Homo sapiens: one gene and its partner. The protein of the gene in region 1 interacts with the protein of each later gene in a biochemical or structural test. Each region holds a gene or a part of one and is shown on either strand. Other genes may lie near its edges.

Region 1 (3,929 bases):
ATAATCAAAATTAAGGAAAACAATAACTTTTATCTACTGAACTATATGGAATTGTTTACTATGGGTTCTTTGTAACTTCATCCCATTACATTTGGACCAAACACAGATTGCAGAAGAATGAGAATCAGCAAAGTAGACAATGTGTCCAATGAGAGCACTAATAATGATAACATAGATGATCATCATGAACACCATATTTAAATTATTTGAATTTCAGCCCTCTTATTAATATACCACAAGGCTACCTTTTTATTGATGTACTTTGGAACTAGTCCTGAAGGCTCAAGATCATGCTTGTCTCCAGTTCTTTTATCAACATAAATTGGTTTAGGCTTTTTAGCCACTCCCATGATGATATCAGCTGCATTTGTATTTATAAAATTTTTTCCACTCTGTATTCCCATGACAGGATGATCAGTCTTCAATGGCACAGCAGGCTTTTTGGGCACGTTCCGATCAAAGTTTTTTTCTGTTAAATATAACATTTCTTTGTTAATATTAAACTACAAACACTGCTACTCAGTGCTATTTATAATATCCAGATATTTCACCACTTGTATATTGAAGTTGCAGTCATAATATATTTAAATATTTAAGATAGAAGTTTATGCTTACCCCCAAACTCATTGACTTGTAGACATTAAATATGCACAGCTTTTTACCTGTCAATCAGGCCTCAATAAAATAATTTTTTAAAAAGAAAAAAAGTCAGTAATTAAAATGGAAATAAATTAAGGGCAACATAATCAATTAATATGTTGAGGAGGCCGGGCACGGTGGCCCACGGTGACGTGGGCAGATCGCTTGAGCTCAGGAGTCTGAGACCAGTCTCGGCAACACAGTGAAACCCCATCTCTGCAAAAAATGCAAAGTTAGCCAAGCATGATAGTGTGCACCCTTAGTCCCAGCTACTCAGGAGGCTGAGGTGGGAGGATTGCTTCAGCCTGGGAGGCGGAGGTTGCAGTGAACCGAGATCATGCCATTGTACTCCAGCCTGGGTGACGGAGTGAGACTCTGTCTCAAAAAAGATCATATATGTGTGTGTGTGTGTGTGTGTATATATATATATATGAACAGTATATAAATACAAGGAAGAAGTATTTCTTGCTTATTGGCCGTTTTTACACAGCCTCTTCAGTTTGATCATTCCCATTGATCTATTTTAATATAGCCAAATGGTTTGCCACAATGCAAAAATGTGAAATAATTTATTTTTAAGAACTGAAAGCAACAACTGTCTTGAAAATGCCTTTTCCAATTTTAACCCCATCACAATTACTAAGGACTGACTTTATTCATTTCTGCATCATTTGACCTTTTTTATTAGTTTATATAACTTTTATTATCAGCAAAGCCAATACTTACAGTTAAAAGTCTATGAACTGGATTAGCCTCTTGTTAGGGGCTGAGTTATGTCCTCCTAGAATTCATATGTTGAAGCCCTAACCCCCAGTATCTCAGAATATAACTGTATTTGTAGAAAGGTCTTTAAAGAGGTAATTAAGTCAAGATGAGGTCATTAGAGAAGGCGCTGATCCAATATGACTGGTGTCCTTAGAAGAGGAAATTTGAACACAGACATACATATAAGGAAGAACACGTAAAGATACAGAGAAAAGATAACCATCTACAAGCCAATGAGAGATGCTTTAGAAGAAACCAACCCTGCTGCGTGTGGTGTTGCATGCCTGCAGTCCCAGCTACTTGGGAGGCTGAGGCAGGAGGATTGCTTGAAGCCAGGAGTGTGAGGCTGCAGTGTGCTTTCATCATGCCTGTGAATAGCCACCACACACTCCAGCCTGTGCAACATAGACCCTATCTCCAAAAATAAAAACAAACAAAAATACTCCTAAAAAAGAAAAGCAAAAATCAACTAATCCTCTGACATCTTGATGTTGGACTCCTAGTTCTCCAGAACTGTCCTCCAGAACTCTCATTGGACCGAGTTTTTAAAGCTTTTGCAAAACCCTGCATTCCTTTTTTTTTTTTTTTTCCTCTTTTTTTGAGACAGGGTCTCCCTCTGCCACCCAGGCTGGAGTGCAGTGATGCAATCATAGCTCACTGCAGCCTCAACTTCCTGGGCTCAGGTGATCCTCCCACCTGAGCCTCCCATATAGCTGGGACCACAGATGTGCATCAGCACACCTAGCTAATTAAAAAAAATTTTTTATAGAGATAGGGTCTCACTTTGTTGCTCAGGCTGGTCTCGTACTCCTGGGCTAAAGCAGTCCTCCTGTCTTGGCCTCCCAAAGTGCTGGGATTGCAGTCATGAGCCACTGTGCCCAGCCCTAATACCCTGAATTGATGAATTATTCTAAAGGCCAATGAAATTTTGGGTTTGCTTTTGCCTTACAATGTTTACAAAATGATAGGCTTCTTCCTTTTTTCTTATTTGACACAAAGGATTTATATATATATATATATATGTTTGTGTTATATCATATGTTTAACCCTAGAGAGGCTATATGAGGACCCAAGGGATACCAGTGGTCCTAAGGCATTGAAAGCATCAAATTCCATTTTAACATTTTCCTATATTCTCAAATGGTATTGTTGGTCATAGAATGCTGGGTCACAACAGGCCAAGACTAGAGGAAGATACAAAAGAGACTTCTGAAGTCACGAATTAAGCATGAATGTTGTATTTCCACACTTGCTTCTTCCATCTTGCCATCTTGCCTGATAGTGCCCTCACCTTTTTTCATGAGATATGGGTTGAGAGAGGATTTGGGGACATTAAATACTGCCATAAAGAGAAGTAGTTTCACTTTTGTTAAAATGTACATCGCTAGCCGGGCTTGAGATGTTGCATTATTTCCTCAATGCCAGCAGACATAAAAAGCCAACATTTTGAAGAGACAGACTCGTTTCTTTTTTCTTTTCTTTTCTTTTCTTCTCTTCTCTTCTCCTCTCCCCTCCCCTCCCCTCCCTTCCCTCTCTCCCTCCCTTCCTTCCTTCCTCTCTCTCTCTCTCTCTCTCTCTTTCTTTTTTTGAGATGGGGTCTCACTTTGTTGTCCAGGCTAGAAGGCTGTGGCTTGATCATAGCTCACTGCAGTTTCGAACTCTTGGGCTCAAGCGATCCTTCCACATCAGCCTCCAGAGTAGTGAAGACTACAGGTGCATGCCATCACACCTAGCTAATTTTTTTTATTTTAATTTTTTTGTACGGACGGGGTCTTGCTTTGTTGCCCAGGTGCTCTCTTTTCTTTATTGCCCTAAGACATCTGGGAAGACATACTTGGGCTATGAAGAAATTGCTTCCATACATACCTGTCACACATCACTTTTCATCTACTCTCCCTTTCCCTGATAGCTTTCTTTCCTGAAATCATTCAAAAGACTCCATAACTGGGATCAAGTATATAATTTTTGAGGCCCAGTAAAAAATAAAAACACAAGGCTACTTGATCAAAAATTAAAAATTTTAGTACAGCAAGAGCACAGCATTAAAATAAGCATGGGGCCCTAAGCTGGTTCTACCACTTATTCATGAAGTCTCCTCCATTACATCTAACTCATTGCAGTCCAGTTAGTCTTAAAGGTCTGGGAGAGTAAAAGCCCGTACTCAAAATGAGCCCAGTAGTTGCTTCAACAACTGGTAGTAATGGTTGTAATTTTCATCTCTTGGAGAAAAGGCCAGACAGGGTTTAGATGCTGGGCAATCTTGCCCATTAGTCAGATACTGTCCCTGGGGTCTTGACTTTTCCTATAATTGTTGTTTATAATTGAAGCCCCACAGCTAGGGACTAAGATGGTGATGCATGTGGGCTTCATTGGATAGTCCAAACCCAATCTAAAGTCTATTCTGGGGGCAATTTATCACACTCCATTCTATTTTTCTACCCAATTCTCTACTTCCACTTTCTCCTAGTCAAATTCTGTTTAATATGAGGTAAAGCTGCTATCACCTGTGCATGTTTAATATTCAT
Region 2 (3,929 bases), on another chromosome or scaffold:
ATAATTGGGGAAAAACTCAAAATATCAGCACGAATGAAGCCTACAGTGTAGGTTTTGCTCTGTTCTTGGTGATGTGAGTATCTGGCTGTTGAGGTAAGTCCTGATGGTTACCCAGGGGATAAGCATGTGAGCAGGTTCAGGGATTCAGAACCAATGTAGCCCCCGGCTTCACTGATACTAATTCACCTGGCTTCAGTGTACATCTCAACATGGAGACCTGAACCAGATATCTGCCATCCTTCCCAGCCACAAGAGCTATAATCCTAAGATTCTGTTCTTTCTATAGCTAACAACTAAAACCGGAATGGCACGCAGAACCACAGTACTTAGAGAAGACTAGGCCAGGAAATTAGAGATGCAGAAGGGAGGAAGATGAGAGGAATATGAGAGAACCGAAGATGTTTTGAAACAAACAGAAAGAAAACTATCCAGGTGTTTGCTTTGACTGGGAATGGAATTAATCCAGAAATCAACTCATATGTGAAGCATCTTAAAATTGCCTGTATTTGACTTGCAAACACTGTGTAAACAATGATAGAATTCCATAGTACCAGGGAATTGGGAACCTTGGAGTACATTCTCAGTGTTGCTGTCTCATTTCTCTCCTTACAATATTAAATTCCAATCTGCAAGCCATTCAGGTGCTTAGTTATTGAATGGATATTTCAAATGTGTCATGATGCTTTCCTGTAGCCTGTTTTCGAATATTCTAATTTATTTTTTGCCATGGCTCCATCACTGAAGGTGGTAGATTGAAGCATTTCTGCCTGCTTTACTTCTGCCAAAGGTTCCTGTTTTCACCTTAGTATACTAAGCTGTTCAGATGCCTCCTGCTAACTGATGAAGAATATAAGGCGCAGAATCTCTCTCCCCAAAGTACTCTGTGCCACAAGGTGCCACTGGCCTAATCTGGCCCAGTCATTTGCCAGGTTTGCAGGGAAAGGTATGACAAAGTTTGCAGCCTATAGACAGAAATAAAGCCTCATTCTAGGCAGAAGTTATTCCTCATCCCACAGATGAGGGATAAGCTAAGGCCAGCCATCATGTCCAGAGCCTAGTAGCTGACATATCCACAGTGTCATCCTTTCTAAAACTCACGAAGCTTTTCTTCTGTTGATGGGCCCCTCAAACTTTGTCCAGTGAGACCAGCAGAGCCATACTGCCAGCAAGGAATGATTCCTGAATGACTCAACTGTGGTCTTATAAACAAACATGTACATCATGCTCAACTGAGTGAGCACAGATGATTTAAAGAAATTATAAAAGCTGATAGGGGCTAAGAAAAATTGCAATTTGCTGGGTGAAGGGAACTTTGCAAGTTTCTTAGGTTTGGTTTTCTGTCACCAATTCTGGAGTTGGCCCTTGGATGGTGGTGGCCAATGCAATTGCCCCAGGTTTTTGCCTTAGCAAAAGGAAAGAAAAAATAACGATAAGAAACAAGCGGGGATCTTGGAGGGGTCAATCCTCTCATTTCACCTATAGAGAAATTGAAGTCTAGAGAGTAGAAATGACCTGCCTAAAACAGACTACTAGCTAACAACAGTGGCAAAACCACAACCCAGTACTGTTTGCTGATACGAAATACATTTTCTGAAGTTCTGTGGAGATCTTCCCAAGAAATCGAGAGGTAACTAAAGTCAAGTTTACCAAGATCACAGCCCTCTACTTCCATTCCATATGTATGTATACGTGTTTATATTATATGCTGCTGTCATATCTTTGTGACTTACCTTCTTGACCACCACCTCCCCCTAACACACACACACTCACACACACAATCCTATCTTGCTAGCTAAGAAAACATTATATGTGTCTATAGCTAGCGTATTCAGATGGAAGGCAGAATTAAACATGACAAAAATTTAGCTGCTCACATTTATGTGTCTGATCTGGCTCACACCACCAACAGCAAGGCATCTAGAAATCCCAGTCTGTTCTGCACCATAGTAGTTTTGGGGAATGGAAGCTAGCAGAATCCAGTGACTATGGCTCTGGTTTAGTATACTCAGTCTCAGAATCAGCCCCCCAAATGCATGTGCAAATACACACACATGCACACACACACAAACATGCACATACAGTCACACTCTTTCCGAAAAATTAAAACAAAGAAAATAGAAAAGATAAGGCAGGTGGTTTTTAGAGCAGAGTACAAGAAGAAGGAAAGGTTTGCAGACGGATATTCTTACCTTCCCCCATTCTTTAGCCTTATTGCCTAATTTTCATTAATCCCACCCTAATTTATTTTAGGATCTGAGAAAATAGAGCAATGCAAACATGTTTACTACAGCCCAGAAGGATGATCTGAAAAACCTCCACATTTGAGTGAGAATATCACAAGGATAGGGAAAAGGCTAGGATGTAGTGAGCTAGAGCCTTGCTACTCCAAGTGTAGTCCCCACACCAGGATTGCCACCATCCCCTGGGAGCTATCTATAAATGTAGAATCTCAAATCCTTCCCCAGACCGACTGAATAAGAATCTGCATTTTATGAAGATCCCCAGTGATTCATTTTTATACTAAAATTTGAGAAGCACCGGGCTAGAGCTTATCCAAAAAGCATCTGAAAGATATTTGAAAATAAACAATTACCTACTGAGCATGTAGGGACAATTCATGTGGCTTATCAATTAAAAAATAAAATATAAACTTTTTCCAGGTCCACTTATCTTATTATTCACTGTAAAACCCTTCAGTGTGGGCAAGAGAGTTCATGTAAAGGGAGTGAGATCATAGGATTTGTTTATTTACCAGGACGACTTGGGTGTGGGAACTCACACAGACCTGAGTTCAAATCCTGGCCCTGCTCACGAATTACTAGCTGTGTAAACATGCACTTTGCCTCTAAGCCTCACAGTCCCCATCTATAAAATGGGATTAATAATAGTACCAACTGGCACTGGGCTGTCATGAAAAATTAAATAAGACCGTATAATGCACTGGGATATGGTGAACAATCAATAAATAGAAGATATAATTCATACGATTTGGCTAATAATTTTAGTTTGGTAGAAAACCAACCACTAGATGTGATATATTGGGGCACCTAGCATTATTTCTAATTGACGTGAATCTTACTGGGTTTTCTACAGATAGAATGCTAAGATATACAACAGTAAAATATATTTAAATATGATGGAGGCCACTAGAAACAAATATTTTTTCAGAAGGAATTACAGGTGTCCCTAGTGAAATCACTCCATGGAAGAAGACTGAAGTCAGAAGTGGCCCTGTTCTATGAAGCATATCTCAAAATATTACCAAGTTAGAAAGTCAAAAGTGAGGCATTTTCTGCATGTTTGCATATATATGCAGCATGAAAACACACACATACATACACACACACGGACGCATCATTTGATGGACAAATTATAAAATAATTCAAGGCCAAAATGACATTCTAGGAGCAGAACTAGGTTTCTGCCTGATAAAATCTTTAAAATGCACAAATAATAACCTCTACTTCGTAACTTGCTCATGTTGCACAGTTTAATGGCTTAGGTATATACTATAGCTATTACTATTTTGTAGGTGAAAAAAAAAGAGCAACTCCTACCTCTTCCCAGCCCATGGTGCTACCTACCTGCTCAATTTTCTCACCAGTAAAATATGATACACGTAGTACTCATAAAGTCCAAGAAATCACCAGGCACTTGATTCTATAAAGACTTATTGACTGGCATGTGCAATCTGGGCAACCTGATTGTAAAGACACAGAGACAGACACTACCACCTCTGGATCCCAGTCCTTTGGTATGTTCCAGACCTCCAGCTTCCCCTGATTTTCAATAGTATCAGATTAGTAAGGTATCAATAATCTTATAATAGACAATATTTATATCTAATTGCTAAGATTTCTGTGATCACCCTAAATAAACAATAGCACGTGTTATCAATTATTGACTATCTTTATATTAGTTTTCTATTG

The links.
Region 2: the proteins of ENKUR (region 1) and TRPC5 form a complex in vitro, tested with the Homo sapiens proteins (one study listed by BioGRID).

The regions. Positions count from the first base shown.
Region 1 is NC_000010.11:24,995,401-24,999,329, forward strand, and holds part of ENKUR (enkurin), read right to left. Parts: intron 470-3,929; coding exon 246-469; intron 1-245. UniProt on the Homo sapiens protein: Adapter that functions to localize a calcium-sensitive signal transduction machinery in sperm to a calcium-permeable ion channel.
Region 2 is NC_000023.11:112,076,056-112,079,984, reverse strand, and holds part of TRPC5 (short transient receptor potential channel 5), read left to right. Parts: intron 1-3,929. UniProt on the Homo sapiens protein: Forms a receptor-activated non-selective calcium permeant cation channel. Mediates calcium-dependent phosphatidylserine externalization and apoptosis in neurons via its association with PLSCR1.